Linked DNA regions of Homo sapiens: region 1 is linked to region 2. The links come from fine-mapping of genetic effects on gene expression. A gene starts in region 2. The other region holds a variant in brackets. All regions are shown on one strand. Distances are between the middles of the regions.

Region 1 (9,237 bases), 51 kb before region 2:
TGTATTTATTTTCACTGAAAATATATTTTTACTATTTTCCATGCCAGTGATTACTCTCCCATAACAACATATTTGACCACAATCTGGAAAGAATTTAAAGTTCTAGAAAAGTGCAAAGAACAACTTAATAGACATCTATACTCCCACCCTGTGCTGTTAACAACTATTAATATTTTATTATGTTCACTTTCAGTCATTTTTCAAAGGGAAAACAGTACATAGGTAGCTAACGTCTCCTACCAGTGAGTCTTTATTTATTTTTCACAGTTGTAAAGGCACTCTGAAGAATATCATTATTGAGCCTGTACACAATACAAAATTATACGACCTTTGTGTACATCCACCACTCCCTCAGGGTGAAGTCTTGGAAATGGTGGAACTGCCAGATCAGTGGGTGAATTTGTACTCCTGCCTGCCATAAATGATAACTCCCTTGTCCCTATATTCTAGCCAACACTGGCTCATTCTAATTCACTTCAAAAAAAAGTTTCATTTGAGAAAGGTGACATTTTATTATTGCTTTATTTTGTATTTCTTTGATTTCTAGTGATGTGACATATACACTTAATATGTACCAGCCAGTTTATAATTTTTCTATTATTAATTGCATTTTCACATCCTGTGTGCTTTTGTTTGTTGGGTATTCATTGTTTCTTTTTGAGTTAAAGGAGCTGCTTCGATGTTAAGGATATCATCATAAATGGCAAACATATATTCTGCTGTGTATCAATTGCCCTTCAGTTTTATTTATGATGGTTTTTGACATAAGTTGTTACTGTTTTTTATGTGTTATAATCAAGTTTGACAGACTTTTCCTTTATGTTTTCTGCATTTGGTGTCATGCTTAGAAAACCCTTCTCCATCCCTAGTTTCTAAAATTGTTCACCCATGTTTTCAGTGTCCTTATGGTTTATTTTTACATAAAATTTAAAAAAAACTAGAATTAATTTTGGGGTATGGTATGGGCTAAGATTCTAACAAATTTTTCCCAGATGGGTATCATGTTGTCTCAACATAATGATGATTGATTAAAAATGCCATATACTACATTGACTTTTATAGATCTATGTCAATTTCTGGAAATTTTATTCTGTTCCATCAATGTGTATGCCTTTGCTACACATCACTACAGTGTTTTATTACGTCTTTATAATATAGTTTCCTATCTATTTTAATGAATCTCTCTTCTTCTTAAAACTTTGGTCAAACTTGTGTTTTCCTTTTTCTAAATGAGATTCTTAACCAAGGGTGAGCATAAAAACAATCTGTGGAGGACTTTAATTAACCTGCCCAGGGCTCACATCCCAGAAAATTCTGATTCATTGGGTCTGGTGTGGGAGCTGGGCATCTTTCAAAAATAAATAAATAACACATGCATATATACATAATATATGCATTATACATAAAAGACTCCCTAGTTGATGGGGAGGCCCCTAGATTAAGAACCACAGCTCCCACGTGAGAACACATGGACACATAGAGGGGAGCAGCACACACTGGGGCCTATTGGAGGGTGGAAGGTGGGAGAAGGAAAAGGATTAGGAAAAATAATTAATGAGTACTAGGCTTAATACCTGGTGATGAGACAAGTTTACCTATGTAACAAACCCGCACATGTACCCTGAACTTAAAATAAAAGTTAAAATAAATAAATAAGAAGACAAAACCAAATAAAAAGAACCACAGCCCCAGCTTCAAAAGATTTTTATAATTTCAGAATCCTGTGTCAGAGTTCCCCTCTTCTCCCACTTCTATCCTGTTTCCAAGTGCAAGATGCTCCCTGGGGGCCACCTGGGGTGCTCTTATGTAATTGGTCTTGAGGATTTAGCTCAGGCTTTGGGGTTTTTGAAAGCTTCCTCAGTGATTCTAACGTGCAGTCAGGGTTGGTGATGACTGGTTTAGAAACTCCTTCTCAGTCCTGACCACTAAATCCTTGCTCTACTGTACAGATAGAATTCTATCTGTGAATTAGTATGGATTTCAATCCTGGTTATACATCAGAATCATCTGTGGTTCTTAAAAAACAGACTGAGCTGAATGTATACATTAAATATTGACCATCAGCATTAAAAAAATACAACTGGGTGTGGTGGCTGACACCTGTAATCCCAGAACTTTGGGAAGCTGAGGTGGGAGGATAGCTTTAGGCCAGGAGTTTCAGACCAGCCTGCACAACATAGCGAGACCCCTGTCTCTACAAAAAAAATTTAAAAATTAGCTGGGCATGGCGGCATATACCTATGGTCCCAGCTACTCGGGAGGCTGAGGTGGGAGGACGGCTTGAGCCCAGGAGGTTGAGGCTGCAGCGAGCCTATGATTGAGCCACTGCACACCAGTCTGGGCAATAGAGTGAGGCCCTGTCTCCAAAAAAAAAGAAGAAGAAAGAAAATAAGTCCAATTTCATAGTTGATTCTGATGCACAGCAAGACTAAATAGCCATTCTCCAGGTAACTGTCCTTTTTAAATGACTAACTCTATTTTTCAGGTGAGAGACCACCTGTTTAAATACATGCATATAGAACTGATCCTTATTGATATAAATGTTTCATCGTGTTTTAATAGAAAGTGGTTCTCAGACTTAAGCATCAGAGCCACCTGGAGAACTTGCTGGGCCCCAGCTCCAGAGTTTCTGAGTTAGTTGACATGGGCCTAAGAGTTTGCATTTAACAGGTTCCTTGATGCTGCCCCAAGGACCACACTTTGAGAAACATTGAGCTGTGGCATTCATACAAATTTTAGACTTGTTGTGTCACGGAGAAATTACTCCATAGCAATGATCTTAAGCATGCTCTCCAAGCTTAAGATCTGAAGCTGTGATCTGAAGACCCCTGAGAAGTGATGGCAAGGGGTATCCAAAACTCTCTGTGCACCTATCACTGCTGAGAGTCACTGCTAAAGCATCTTATTAAACTCCTAGGGCTGTACCTTCAGTCTGACTTTATTGAGCTTCTTACACATCCCCCTCCAGTTCCAATGTTGCCCTCATTATTGTGAGTGTGTAACCCCTGATGCATGACCTCAGTGGTTGTGGTGTTGCATGACATGGTGTATAGGGTGAATGACAAGTTGTTCCCTAAAGGGTAAGACCTTGCCAGGATTATCTGGGGAAGGGAACATGTCTTAGAATGGGTTGAGGACACTTAGACGGCCAGAAGAACTGCCTCCATACCCAACTCACTTGGAAGCATCATCTTCCAACCCATTTTCTCCAGAGGAGCCAATTAAGTGTTCTACAATGCAACTCCAATCATGTCACTCCCTTGCATAAGCCCTTCAATAGTTCCCCAATGGCTCCTAGAATAAAATCCAAAATTCTGGACATGGTGGTATAGGTTGGGTTCCCCAGAAAACAGATGGAGTTTGGCATGAAGCATGCTCATTCTTAATCCCTTGGGACAAACACTCATGGATGCAGGAGATGGAAACACAAATGGGCAGAAAGAGTTAAGCCACGATATGGGCCCAAAGACAGCCTCAGCTTGTCCCATGGGGAGCTCTGGAGTTGGACTGGTCCATCACTGTTTTCTTGAGTTGAGTAAAGATGGTTACGCCTTTACAGCCCCACCGGGTATGAATTGCCCCATAAAGGGTGTGACAATGGATGAGGCAGCCGTCTGCAGTTGAGACAATCCCTGAAGGTCCTGACCATGGACAGCTGGCCACCACAACATGCCTAGCATCTGGAGTAACAGGTTCTTCCTTAGAATAGGGCCTGAGTGGTAGCAGTGTTCACCACAGATGGCCACAACATTCTTTGCAATCTGGAAGTTGCCTACCTCTCTAATCTCATCTTTTGTTATTTTTCCCCTTATTTTGTCCTCTTCAGGCACATGGTTTTTTCCTTCCATCTCTCAAATCCACCATGTGCCTTTCTGCTCCAGGACCTTTGCCCATGCTCACCTTCCTGCTTAGAATGTCCTCTGCATTTCTGCCCTCCTCACCTCCCATGCAGATATTCAAACTCCTTTTTCAGGTGTTTGCTCCAGAGTTGCTTTCTCTGGGGGAACTTATCCGACCCTCCACCTGTGTAGGATGCTTGGTATATACTTGCAAAGCTTAGGAACCTACTGGACTTGAGCCAGGAAATGAGGGACTCATGCAAAGCTGCCTCTTTCCTTGGGGTTCCATGTTGAGAGAGATGGGCCTGAAAGCCACCGTGAGCTGGCAAGATGGGGTACAGTTAGATTCTTTGTAAGCAGTGTGCTGACTTGCCTTAAAATTTAGCAAAACTTTTTGAAAATTCTGCCCTGTTTTCATTATGCTTTTTTGGGGCTGGAGCTGACCAGGAGAGGCAGCAAGAGCCAGAATCAGAGTGAGGGTCCTCAAATGGAAAGTGACATTTAAGAGGCTCAATTCAAGGGCCCTTGATCAGGCATCCCTCTAAACCAGGGGATCCCCCTTCTTGTATTAAATTGTGGAGATTCAGAGTTTTGTGTTGTTGAATAATAGCAATATAATAACAGCAGCCATGATGCCCTGTATTGAGCATTTACTGAGTAACACCATGCTATGTATTTGCTTGCCTTACCTCACTAATCCTCATATGACCTCTAGGAGGAGGAAACTATCATCTGTCTCTGTTGAAGAGATGAACAGAGGTTAAGCGATTTGCCCAGGATCACACTTGTAATTAGTGGCAGAGCTGGGCTATGAAGCAGTGCTACTGTAGGAACAGAATCGCCAGGCCAATGCAGCATGCATCTGGCCTTTTTGACACAGGTGCCTATCTGAACCTTCTCAAGGGGGTGGCGCCTGTGGCCCAAGTCCCTGGTCCTTAGCAGTCTGCGGAGACCCAGCCTCTGCTGCTGGTTCCATGTACCCAT[C/T]CCCCATCAGGGCTTCCCCCTCCTGCCAGCTCAGCCCTGGCTGCTTAAGTCCCAGCATGCCTCGGGCTGTAGCCAGCCTGAGTTATGACATAACTCGCCTGAAAATTTCCCTGTAAAGGGAAAGGGGCCAATCCAATGTGAATTATTCTTATCGTAAGCTCCCCAAAGCCAGGGACCTTATATGATTTATCTTGGTATAACCCACAGCACTGGGAACAGGGCCTGGCACACAGCACACAATAAATGTTTATGGAATTGACTGAAGTTTTCAGAGAGACGAGGGCAACACACACACACGCACACACACACCCTGGCACACAAGTAGTATATGCACAAGTGCACACACACTATACCTACAAATCCTTCACACCCACACACTCTCTTTACACACAAAGACACTCTGCACACACACACACTGATTTTGTGTGCTCTCTGAGTGTGAGTTTGTGTTTGTGATCTTTCTCTTCCTGTGACATGTCATGTGTATGGCTCCATCACTCATTTTAATTACATTATTGTGGGCTGTGTTTGGCCTTTGGCTATTTTTGAGGCCAGATTAGAAAATTTAAAAACATCCATCTTTCTTCAGGAGAAACTTATAACAGCAATTGCCCTGGGGTGGGGAATTGGGATACAAAAGTAGGGATGGGGGAATTTACTTTTCATGGTCTTCCCTTTTGTTCTGTTTACATTTTTTAAAAAACCATGTGCATGTGTTATCTTTTCAAAAAATAAAAATAGAAACATTTAGGAAAAAAAATAAGAAAGCTACCTTGCTTCCAAAACAACCACTCACTAACATAAAAGCTTTTTATAACTGGGTTAGTTAGAGATTAAAGTTGAGGCCGGTTCTGGACAGGTTCACAGGCCCCTGGAAGCACGTCACCACCACCCATGCTGCTGGCAGCCCTCTAGGGCTTGGGCTCCGGACGTTGTCCAGGATGAGCCCAGAGGGATGTTTCTTCTCCCAGGAGCTCCCCCGTGGTGACCCCCAAACACTCATTTAGTTATTCTCTTTGCTAGGTCAGTGACAAATCTGCAAGGATTAGGCGAAGTAAGCTCTGAAATCTACTCAGTAAGATGAAAATCTGTCCCCTCATTCTCAGGCTCAAGGGGAAGTGATTAAATCTGAGGAGTTGGGCTCAGGGGGCAGGGGGCTTGCTGTAGCCTTTGAGTTCGAAGTTCTGCTGCATCCTTTCCTGTGATTTTAGAATCACTGGCATCTGGTCTCCAGACACAGTGGCAGCTGTTTGGAGCCCCAGAGTCAAACCCAGGGAGGATTGGGGCCTCCGAGGTGGACTGGATACTTAAAACCAGCTAATGAGAGAGCTGGGGCTTTCTTCTGAGTCCAAGATATTCCTGGAGGGATTAATTTTTATCAAATGACTTCTTAATGAGAGTCCGCTTACCTCCAAATTTGGAGACTTTAAAGCTCCTGAAATTTAAAACTAATCAGCAGGCTGGTCTGCCTTGAATGTGAGGAGTTCACACAATTAGAAACTCAAAAGGGAAGAGAACATGTTAGTAACAGCCAGGAGCTAGCAGAGTGGAAAATATTAGCTTGAAATTCAGCAAGTGGCCTTGCTCTGTATCCTTGCAAATTCAGGATAGGTTGCTAGGTTGGGATCTGAAACTGAGGTCCTGGGAGCTGGATCTGGCTGGCAGATATGTTTTCCTTAGCCCACAAATAATTTAAAATTTTGGGAAATTTCATGGACAAATGTGGTTTAAGGAGCTTCTTTGTAAAGTCAGAAATTCTGGCAGGAATAGGACTGCATTCCTGCATAGACAACAAACTCCTTGAGCTGCCTGGCAGCAGTCCCTTTATGATGGGCCATGTGTGGCCCAGTTTGCTGCAGTCTCCAACTTTCCTTTAAGAGGAGAACTGTATGGATTATGTTACCTGCTCAGCCCTTGTGGATATTTGAGTCTGAGCTTCCTGCCCCAGATACACTATACTCATGCTTAGAAGAACTCATGGGATGGACCACTTTGCAAATTTGGGGATGATTTTTTTGACAGTGAGGCCAAGACAATGCCACCGGCCTCAGTTTGGGGAATTCTCCATCCCAACCCACACCTTTGATTTGGCTTCCCCAGTGACTCAGCTTCAGGGAACTAATGTTTCTCTCCTTTACCCTGTTGTGAACAGACTCTAGGATTGTTTCAAATGATCTCTGCCTCCTGGTGCCTTTGTAGAATCTTACCCCTTGCAGGATAGGAAGGACCTGTGACTTCCTTCTAACCCATATAATGGCCATGGTGACAGGATGACACTCTCATGATTATATGACAGAAGACCATAGCATCTGTCTTGCTAGCAGACTGTCTCTCTTTCTGGCTTTGATGAAGCAAGTGAGTATGCTGTGGAGGCCCATGAGCAAGGATCTGAGAGAGGCTCCTGTCCAACAAACAGCTGAGAACTAAGAGGGACCAACAGCCAGCAAGAAACTAAGCCTGTCAGTCCAACAGCCCACAAGGACCTGAATCCTGCCAACAACCACATGAACTTGGAAGTGGCTTCTTCCCCAGTCAAGTCATTGGATGAGATCACAGAGCTGGCTGACATCTTAACTGCAGCCTTGTGAAACTCTGAAGTAGCGAACCCAGGTAAGCCATGATCAGACACCAAACCACTGTCAGAAACTGTGAGACAATAAATGTGAGTTATTTCAAGCTGCTCAGTTGGTGGTATTATAATATTGTTATGTAACAATAGATAACTAACACACATGCCTTTTGGTCTTGGAGTTTCAACAATTAACTCATGGTTTAGAACTGCTAATTGCTGCTACTGATTCTTCGAAATCTGGATCACTTGCCAGGATAGACTCTTTTTTTTTTTTTTTGGTGGGGGAGGAGAGAATACGGCCACACTCCGTTCATACCTCTGGTGTATCATTAACCAAATGTCTCCCACAATAAAATGGCAGTTTCTTGATGGAAGGGATTGTATTCTGTTCATCTTGATGTCAGCAGTGCTGAATATTGTGTATGTGCTCAGTGAGTTGTTGTTGAGTGAATGAACATAGTTGAATGGCTGAATTGTCAATTGCAGGCACTTTTGTCCCCCTCTAGTTCCATTCTTAATGACTGGATCATCTTCTGCTGTTTGAAGGCACCAGAGTTTGATTAATACAGGTGACTAATATTCTTTTTGTATTTATCTTGTTTCTGCAGAATTTTTTGCTAATATAACTAATATAATAATAATAATGCTTCAATTCAGCATTCTAATAGCCAAATGTTTGTGCTCATTTATGATTGTTGTTGGGCCAAAACATATGTGTAATATTATGGTTTTTAATACTTACTGGAAAGATATTTACACTTCTAAAAATATAGTATATAGGAATGTCAACTTTCCCACACATTTACCAGTATTGGTTAGTATTTTTCTGGTTAACCTTTGCCAATTTAATAGGTGGGGATACTATCTTGTTGTTTTATTTGCATTTATTTGCTAGTGAGTGAGGTGGAATTTTTTATTAACAGTTTGTATTTCTTTTATAAATTTATATTTCATGTCCATTGACCATTTTTCTATTGGGAAGGTTGATCTTTATTTTATTGATTTGTAAGAGTTCTTTATATATTAGCTCTTAAGATAAAATATTACATATTATATATTATCATATATATGTTTTGGAACACATTAAAAAATTTTTATTTGGTGAAATTTACTAGTTTTTTATTTTACAGTTCCTGCCTTTTCTTCATACTTAGTTATTTTGAGAAGTATCTGTTCATATCCTTCACCCATTTTCTGATGGGGTTGTTTGTTTGTTTGTTTTCCTTGTAAATTTGTTTAAGTTCCTTGTAGATTCTGGTGAGGCTGTGGAGAAATAGGAATCCTTTTACACTGTTGGTGCGAGTGTAAATTAATTCAACCATTGTGGAAGACAGTGTGACAATTCCTCAAGGATCTAGAACCAGAAATACCATTTGACCCAGCAATCCCATTACTAGGTATATACCCAAAGGATTATAAATCATTCTACTATAAAGACACATGCACATGTATGTTTATTGCGGCACTATTCACAATAGCAAAGATTTGGAACCAACCCAAATGTCCATTGATGATAGACTGGATAAAGAAAATGTGGCACATATTCACCATGGAATACTATGCAGCCATAAAAAAGAATGAGTTTATGTCCTTTGCAGGAACATGGATGAAGCTGGAAGCCATCATTCTCAGCAAACTAACACAGGAACAGAAAACCAAACACTGCATGTTCTCACTCATAAGTGGGAGGTGAACAGTGAGAACACATGGACACAGGGAGGGGAACATCACACACCGGGGTCTGTTGGGGCATGGGGGGTAAGGGGAGGGCAAGCATTAGGACGAATACCTAAGGCATGCAGGGCTTAAAACCTAGATGACAGGTTGACAGCTGCAGCAAAC
Region 2 (9,237 bases):
ACTCAGAAAAAGAAAAGAAAGAGAGTGTAATGTGCTCTTTGGTTGCTATTCTATTTGAGCCCAGTTCTCCAGCCTTCTTCTTAATTTTGTGAGCTACCCCAAAGTTCCTTTCCTGTGTAAGATATCCCAAATCTCTTTTTTTCACTTCTAGTAACCCTTACTGTTTCATAAATAAAGAGCAATGGCAGTTAAGAATGAGAAGCAAAATAAATAAGATACAAGAAAAGTAGAGAAGTTGAAGAAAGTAACTGGATCCTATGACTGTCTCAAATTTGGAAGGGTTGCAGTCCTGATACATGCATATCCTTCAAAATAAGCCCCCCCACCTCCAACACTTTTTATTAAAATGGTATCTATTCCTTGCAACGGAGGGAGCAACTCTTTTTGTTTGTTTGTTGTATTGGTCAGCACTCTTTCAGTTGCAAGTGCTAACAGAAAGATAGCTAATCACTGCAGCAATAAAGTCCAGGGTCCATGCATTCCGCATGGCTAGATTCAGAGGTTCAAAGGATATTATCAGGAATCTAATTCTCCCTCCATCAGTTCTGCTCTCCTCTTTGTTGGCTTTATTGTTGGTTTCTCCTCTTGATAGCAGAGATGACCATTGGAAGCTTCAGGCTTATTTTAGATTAATTCATCATCTCAGAAAAAGAAGTTTCTCTTTTCCAATAGTTTTCACAAATGTTGTGTGGTTTATTCTCACTAGAAAGATTTGAGTTACTTTCAGTTCTTGAAATATAATTAGAAAGTGATGATGTCAGGCTTGGTCATATGCCTGTCTTTGAACTATGTTCAACCCATACAAACCACATGGGAATAAAAGAGGGAAAACTGTTTGTCCAAGGATGGCAAGGATTACTAGTTGTCCTCCATAACCATTCTTTAGTTCTTTCTTGATACCAAAATCTCAAAGTGTTAGCCAGGCATACAGCCATCCAGAATCAAGACTGCATTTTGAAGCATCTCTTGAAGCTAGAAAGTCAAATGATAAAATGCTGTCAAATTGAATACGAGTTGAAATAATACAGGCAACTTCCAAGAAATGTCCTTAAACAGATATGGCATGTCTTTACATATTTACTAATGACCAGAATGTGAACATTCTGGCTGCAGATGAATAAGTCATTGTAGACTATGTGGTGACTTTAGAATGGAGGAAATGCATGGTAGAGTAACAAGATAGAGGGAGCCTGGGTCCCAAACACTTTGGAGCTTCCATACAAGCCCTAAAGTACCTTCATCTGGACTTTCATGTGATTACAAAAATAAACATATACCTTGCTTAAGTGGGTGTTAATTGACAAACTACACAACCCAGCATAATCCTACCTGATACCCCCAAAGCAGAATCACGTTTGCTACTGTAAACAGATAAAGGTTTAGGAGATGGGCAGGTATGTCCAATGTCTCACTTCCTAAAAAATTCTATCCAAGTCAGTCATTACTCTGATTGGAAATTTGAAGAGGAAAATCTTCCTGGTTTTGATATATGTGAGTACCCAGGGATATCACAGTTTATGAATTCAAAGGTTAAAAATTATTTAAAAATTAAGCCAAGCACAGAATTATGAGAAATCATTATATTCATGTTTTATTTTCTAAGGGAAATAGTACTGATCACAGCAGATGACTCCACATTTAACCTTGTAATTTTAACAATGGAATACAAAAATAGCAGGTTCATGATGTGAATAATTGTTCAAAGTATATATAAGAGCTCCTTCCAGGCCAGGCATTGTGGCTCATGTCTGTAATTCTAGCACTTTGGGAAGCTGAGGCAGGAGGATCACTTGAGCTCAGGAGTTCAAGACCAGCTTGGGCAACACAGTAAGACTTCATCTCTACAAAAAATTAAAAAACTAGCTAGGTGTGGTGGCACATGCCTGTAGTCCTAGCTACTCAGGAGGCTGAGGCAGGAGGATCCCTTGAGCCCAGGAAGTGGAGGCTGCAGCATGAGCTATGATTGCACTACTGCATGCCAGCATGGTCAACAGAGTGAGACACTTCCCCTCACCCAAAAGAAGAAGAAGAACTCCTTTAAGTATATTTGTTTTGACATTTTTATTAACAATTAGAATGAGGAATTAATTAAATTGTGATCAACTGTGGAAATTACATGATGCCAAGTGAGTGGTTCATGCTTTGGGTAATGGAATCATAGAATCATGCAACATCTAAACTTTGAGAGACTTTTAAGGTGAATCATAGCGTCCCATTTTACAGCTGAGGAACCTGAGGCTTAAAGGGGGTCCACTTGCCCAAAGTACACCTGGAATAAAGGGTAAAGCTGGGATACAATCTTTCTACTTTTTCTTTTTGAATAAATGAAAGCTACCTCGTGGTTTGACTTCAAATAGACATTTAAAAAAAACTAGGGCAGCGAACTGATGAGACAAGATGAAATGCAATCAAGTCAAATCTATAAGGACCTACACATTGGGTCCAAAAAGGCCCACTGTACAAGCACAGTATGGGGTAGCTGTGCCTTAATCAGCAGCACTTGTAAGAAACATTTAGAGATGTTACTTGGCTGCAAGTTTGAGATGTCAGCAGTGTGATATAGCCACAAGAAAAAGATAATGGAGTCTTAGGTGGCATTACTAGAAATAGAACTTACAAAAGAGAGGTGAGAGTCCTGTTGAACTTTTCAATCCATATCTGAAATTCCTCGCGCAGTCCCAGGTGTGAGATTTTAGAAGAGACATAGACAAATTAGCTTACATCCAGGAGAGGAGCCTAGGATGGAATTATATGAATAATGGTCAAAGGAAGTTAGGAAGCTGCAAAGTGCTGTAACTAAGAGCTTGAATCTTGGAGTCAAGACTGCCCGGGTTTAATCCCAGCTCTGCCAGTTACTGTGTATATGTTTGTTAAATCTTCTTATCACTGCCTGTAGATTAGAAATTACAATAATACCTATCTCCAAAGATAAATGAGGTAGTGCATGTCAAGTGATTAGCGCATAACTCCCATAAAACAAGCACTCAATAAATGCTAGCTACTATTAGAATTAAGACAGCAAAGTGATGCCAGGGTAATGGTAACAACTTCATAGGTTGTGAATATTTAATCAGTTAACCCATGCCAGGTGCTTGATACAAAGTTGGCAGCTATTATTATTATCTGCCGTAGAATTGGTTTAAGGTTTCTAGGGATGGGACTAGTTTGGGGACAAAATATTTTCTGGTTTGGGCTAAGATCCACAGAACCTAATGATCAGTTTACAGCCTGAGGAAGGAAGTCAGTTATACCCTGATCAGGGTGGGGGTCATGGTGGTCATCTAGACATTCTATGGCTGGGTGGTGGTGGAGGGCACTCACCTTGTGAACACTCGGACATGGTGAATTGGCATTGGCATTGCTGTTGAAGGACAACTCAGCCGTGTTCTTAGCCATGGCCATTTAGGCCTGTTCTGATGCAGGGTTCTGATCCAAGGTACCAGTGTGGTCCCTCAGGGAAGTACTGGGGATCGTCACTTATGCCTGTTCTGGACATGGTCACCGAGAACTGTCCTGTAGGCATTCACTTAGGAATCATTCGAAGTGGAATTGCTCCTGGATACGTTCTCCTTGTACTCTGTTTCCTCCTCCTAGTGTCTCTGTGTGAAGAAGCCCTCCTCACTCAGCCCTCGGCGACCCTCTGGTACCCTGGACAGCTCCCCGGGGAGCAGTCTACCGCTAGGCGGCGGCTGCTAAGAGAGGAACCCTCCTGACGCGGAGTCTGCCGCTCCGGGGCTCGCTCTCCGGCAGGCCCGGGGAGAGGTGGGGTGACAATGGGTTGGGGTGCGCGCGTGCCTCATAGGTGCGAGACAGAGCGAGCCGCCGGGGTGTGAGTCAGCGCGCTGGGGGCTAAGAAGCTGGGTGAATAGTCACGGAATCTCACTCACGCTCGGCTCCTCCACCCATCCCGTCTACAGCGCGTGTCCCAGTCCAGGGCGTGCGTGCGCTCGGTGTCCGATTCCGGGCTGTGTGTGTCCATTTGGCGAGATGTCGAGAGCGGGGGGAGTGTCCTTGTCGGTGTATCTGGGCCCAGGTTAGGGGACTTCTCCTCCCCACCCCCGCGTGGGTGTGGGGGTGTGTCCGGGCTAGGGCGCGTGTGCTTCTGTGCCTGTGCGTGCGTGTGCGGGTCAGGGTGGTGGGACCGCGCATCAGGGCAGGGTGCCTGCGTCTGCGTCTGGGTCTGTCTGGTCTGCATGTCGGCGCGATCTCGACCTGGATTCGTGTCCCTGGATGTCGAGAGGCCAGCGTGGTGGGGGTGTCCAGCCTCCCGGAGGAGTACTATGCCTTGACACCTTCGTTTCACCGCCCCAAAGCTGGCCTGGGGCTCCGTAGGGAGTGGCCTGCATGGGGAGGGCCCGCGTGCTGTGTTTCTGGGAGGGGTAAGAGAGTGGGGGCGCAGGGGGCGGGCCAGGTCCCTGGGCGCGGCGCGGGCTCGGGGGACCCGCGCGGCTGACGTCAGGCCACTCCTTAAATAGAGCCGGCAGCGCGCTCCGCTCGGCATTTCCCGAAGAGCCAGATCGCGGCCGGCGCCAGCGCCACCGTCCGGTCCACCCGCCAGCCCGCACAGCCGCGCCGCCGCCGAGCGTTTCGTGAGCGGCGCTCCGAGGATCAGGAATGGGGCTTCGGGCGCTGGGCGCGCTCCGAACCCGGCGCACGTAAGAGCCTGGGAGCGCCCGAGCCGCCCGGCTGCCCGGAGCCCCATCGCCTAGGACCGGGAGATGCTGGAAATGCAACCGCCTGTTCCCCGAGGAGCCGCTGCCCCCGGGACCCCCTGGCACTGTGCGCACCCTGGTCAGCAGCCCCCGGAGAAGACGGCGCCCCCAACGCCCGACCCGCGTGGCCGTGGCAGCGCCACGCGAGCCCTCTAGGCGACCGCAGGGCCACAGCAGCTCAGCCGCCGGTGCCCCCTCGGAAACCATGACCCCCGGCGCGGGCCCATGGAGCCATGGCCTATAGGGTCCTGGGCCGCGCGGGGCCACCTCAGCCGCGGAGGGCGCGCAGGCTGCTCTTCGCCTTCACGCTCTCGCTCTCCTGCACTTACCTGTGTTACAGCTTCCTGTGCTGCTGCGACGACCTGGGTCGGAGCCGCCTCCTCGGCGCGCCTCGCTGCCTCCGCGGCCCCAGCGCGGGCGGCCAGAAACTTCTCCAGAAGTCCCGCCCCTGTGATCCCTCCGGGCCGACGCCCAGCGAGCCCAGCGCTCCCAGCGCGCCCGCCGCCGCCGTGCCCGCCCCTCGCCTCTCCGGTTCCAACCACTCCGGCTCACCCAAGCTGGGTACCAAGCGGTTGCCCCAAGCCCTCATTGTGGGCGTGAAGAAGGGGGGCACCCGGGCCGTGCTGGAGTTTATCCGAGTACACCCGGACGTGCGGGCCTTGGGCACGGAACCCCACTTCTTTGACAGGAACTACGGCCGCGGGCTGGATTGGTACAGGTAAGGACCAGGAGCTCCGCTCCGTGCGCCGGGTCTCTGATCGCTTCCATTGGGAGAGCCATCCGTCTCTTGTGTTTTCTCTTTCTTTTAACCCAACTCATTGTATGGGTTCAGGCTGACACACAGGGCCATGGGGGGCTATAGCAGAATTTACCCAGAACTTCCCAGTGATAATCTAGACGGGCAGTTTCTGGAACTGCAAAGGGCGTTCCCTCGTCACTGGAGTCGTTGGAAAAGGATTATCTCCAGTCAAACCTAAGTGCCAGCTAAAGGGCTAACTCCCTCTGTGACCAGCCCTTAGGGTGCCCAAGGAAGGGACAGGCGAGGACCTGTGCTGCCTGAACACGGCACCATCCTAACCCTCTGTAGGTCTTTGCTGGTACCCAGCCCCTGAAGGACCCTGAGAAAGATAAGGCAGTTCAGAGACCCCTTGCAGCAAGGCTCTGTTTGGGAAAGGTCCCCAGAGTTCAGGCCAAATGACAGTGCATCGCCAGAGGTCTCCAGTAAGAAAGATGCCTTAGGGAGTCTCAATCTCAAACCCAGGTATTTGCTGCTGTACTGGGGCTGAGACCCCCAGTAGCTCTGGCCCTGGTAGGTGGTCTTTGAGTAGTGGAAAGAGCCCTGGATTCGAGTCTTGGGTCTGTCACTTAAGCTTGAGCAAGTTTCTTAAACTCTATCAGCCTCTATTTTCTCATCCATCCCAATGGGCAGGAAAACAGCCCTTGCCCTGTATACCTTCCAAGGCTTTTCTGAAGTGCCTTAAAGGTGTAAAAAAGGCACTTCACTTTAAGTGATGCTTCTAAACCAGCAGCCAAAATGTGGAATTTGAAGGTGGGCCCTGCGGGTGAAGGCTAGCAAGGGTGCTAGGGGCAGCCAGTCATGCATAGACTGTCTATGCTTCCCATGCATGCCAGGGAGGAGAATTATCCCCACTGGGGGAGTCAAGGCACAGACCAAAGCTTCTGTGAGGTGGCAGCGTCCACGCCTCAATGCCTTTCTGCCTCCCTAGCCCTGTATGGTGCTGAAGTGTAGGACTGGCCCACATGTGGGTGGTGTAATGTCCCGGCTCCCTGTTAACACATAGGTCACAGAATTCTCACAATTCACCTGACCCTTTGAAGACTTTCTAGAAACATCTGCATAGTAATGACGTTGGGGAGGGGTAACATGGTAGCTGACAGAGTAGCTGAGGCTAAATCTGCTGTTTTTATCTACAGCTTTAGGCAGTAGAGGTCATATGCATATTGGACAAGGGACAACTTTGTTAGAAAGAGGACCCCACTGGGCTTATAATAGAGGGCCCTGGATTTACCAAAAGTAGGGGGACCGCAGGCCTGATTTAGCACCTTTGCAGGTTACTCCTGGCTCGCAATGGTTGTAGTTGTGGGGACGAGTGGGTCATGCATCATCCTTAGCAGGCAGACACATAGTCTGTCCCCATTGCAGCCAACCAGGGGCTAGCTAGCCTGTGGGTGGCCCCAGCACCATTATGTCTGGTTAATAGGGTAGGGTGGCACAGAGTGGCAGATCTGGCTTCATGCCAATGCCAATAGCCCACTGTGCTTTCCAAGCTGTGACTCATGGGCATCCCGTCTAGGTGCATGTGGACACTGTCTGAGTCAGATCCCGGGATGGAGGAGGCAAACACATTGAACAGCAGAGCCCAGAGTGGGTCAGCCATGACCACATTCGAATGCAGGCCAGCATTTCCTCGATGGAAAATCTGAAGATCATTATGACACCTTTTGCCAATGCGAAGTGCCTTTTAAGTGCAAAACAGCAAAATTCTGAGCATCTGGCTTTCAGATAGTGTGCCCTCCAATAAATACCTATGCCCTGAACCCAGACTCTCCTCCCTCCCCTCTCTTCCTTCCACCACTAAACAGCATACCTCAGGCTTCCATCCTGGAGCCCATGTCATTCAGGGATGGCTGCTTTTTATTTTTAACCTTGGCATGTGTGATTCTAAGCAAGCTTAGCTGTGAACCTTAGAGAGGGAAGCCATGTCTTATTTTTTATTTATTTATTTTTTTTTAGCACATTTGGATTCTGCTAAAATTCTCAGCTGAGTCTTGGTAGGTTTTATTTAACATCAAGCATGCTGACAGCTCTGCTTCTCTCTTCTCTCCCCCTCTACCACCTTTCCCCACTTTATATTTCTAAAAGACTATCCTAGAGGTCTGGTCGTAATTGCCCTCTCCCCATTGCTTGACCAGGAAGGCTGGGAGGCTCCAGTGTCAGGAAAAGGCTGTGTGGTTTGTGCTTCTTTCAGTTACAAATCCACACCCCTAGAGTCAAGTGTTTAGCTTGTGGATTGCCATTTCTGTGCAGGGTAATACTACCCCACTTAGATGCTGTTTCCATAACCTCCAGAACATCTTTCTGTATGTAAAGAACATTTTTGTACATTTCTTTTTATTATGACCAAGTCATACACATTAACTGCAGAAATCATGGGGATTTCTGGAATCTTTTAAAACCCATGTTCTTACTTTCTTCCTGAATCCCATGAGCTAGGTACGGTGGGTGACAGGATGTTCCGCTCTCTGTCCACTGCCTTGTCAGTTCACAGCTTGCCATCATAAAGCCAGGGTCCACTGGGCAGACATAGCCAAAGAACCCTTGCACCCATTGGAGTGGACTGTGCTTTCCAAAGGGGGAGGTGCAGAGTTGCAGGCAGTGTGGATCTTAGTATGATCTGCCCACATCAAAGCCCCTGGTGATAACTTCCTGATCAGGAGGCTGAAATCCAGATAGTGGAAAAATCAAAAGCTTTACCCTTAACCCAAAGGAGGGGCTTCTTTCTGTGGGTAAATGGAGATAAAGCTGAAGGCCGAGTGATATAGCCAGAAAGACACCATCATTTGGAGAGACCAGGAGACAGAGTCTGCACCTTCTTGTCCTTAGCCTGATCCTTCTTGGGAACCACTCCCGTTCAGGCCACTACCAGAGAGCCCAGCCTTCTGCAGTGGGTTCTCTCCAATTTGCTGTCTTTCTGCCATGCCATCTCTGATGCTTACCTCAACTATGTGTCTGGCCTGGGTTCTCCCCCACCCACATTTCCTCCCCGAGGTAAGAGCTGCAGGGTGGTATCTCCTAGCTGCTTGGACAGGTGGGCAAAGCAACACCAGGCTGATGAGGGAACCAGGACAGGGAACCACAGTCAGAAGACCAGAGGTGGTCACCTAGGTGCTGTATGATTTGAAGAAAGGTGATTCTCCCAAGTCTCAGCTTCCTCATCATGGAATGGGACCTGTAGTAACTATCCTAGAAACGTGTTGTGAAGAATAAATGCAAAACTGTACATGAAATTGCCCTGGAAAATTCTATGATATATAAAGACAAGGCAGTAATGTTACTACTGTTATTGCTACTAATTACTACAACACTCCTGTTATCACTATTAGTTCTGTTAGTATTAAAAATATTAGTTTCTGATGCTGCTGCTGTTACTAAATCGGGCTGAGGAATTAATCAATTGCTATAAAGATAGTTCCATACTTTCCTCTTTATTCCTTCCCTTCCCTTCCTCCTTCCCTCTCTCCCCTTTCCCTTCTCCTTTTCCTTCCTTCCTTCCTTCCTCCCTCCCTCCTTGCCTGCCTTCCTTCCTTCCCTCCTTCCTTCCTTCCCTCCCTCCCTCCTTCCCTTCCTTCCTTCCTTCCTTCATTCCTTCCTTCCCTCCTTCCTTCCTTCCCTCCCTCCCTCCCTTCCTTCCTTCCTTCCTTCCTTCCTTCCTTCCCTCCTTCCTTCCTCCCTCCCTCCCTCCCTCCCTTCCTTCCTTCCTTCCTTCATTCCTTCCTTCCTTCC

Direction of the effects. Alleles are on the strand shown, and positions count from the first base shown. SD is a standard deviation of normalised expression in the study named.
In carriers of allele T in region 1, the expression in iPS cells of the gene that starts at base 4,497 in region 2 tends to be lower than with C alone (large effect, 1.3 SD a copy in HipSci).

What was found. PIP is the estimated chance that this variant, and not a neighbour inherited with it, causes the effect.
Region 1: its variant is fine-mapped to the expression of HS3ST2 in iPS cells (HipSci, PIP 0.95).

The regions. Positions count from the first base shown.
Region 1 is chr16:22,759,031-22,768,267 of GRCh38, forward strand. No RefSeq gene overlaps it. Among named protein-coding and RNA genes, the nearest start is that of HS3ST2, 51 kb to the right of the region's middle. The variant C/T (reference allele first, on the strand shown) is at 4,824.
Region 2 is chr16:22,809,666-22,818,902 of GRCh38, forward strand. HS3ST2 (heparan sulfate-glucosamine 3-sulfotransferase 2) reads left to right here and starts at 4,497. Exons shown (of 2, transcript NM_006043.2): 1 at 4,497-5,430. The coding sequence starts at 4,946. LOC107984851 (collagen alpha-1(XVI) chain) reads right to left here and starts at 5,194. Exons shown (of 4, transcript XR_001752349.2): 1 at 5,042-5,194; 2 at 3,322-3,599; 3 at 2,618-2,736; 4 at 1-972.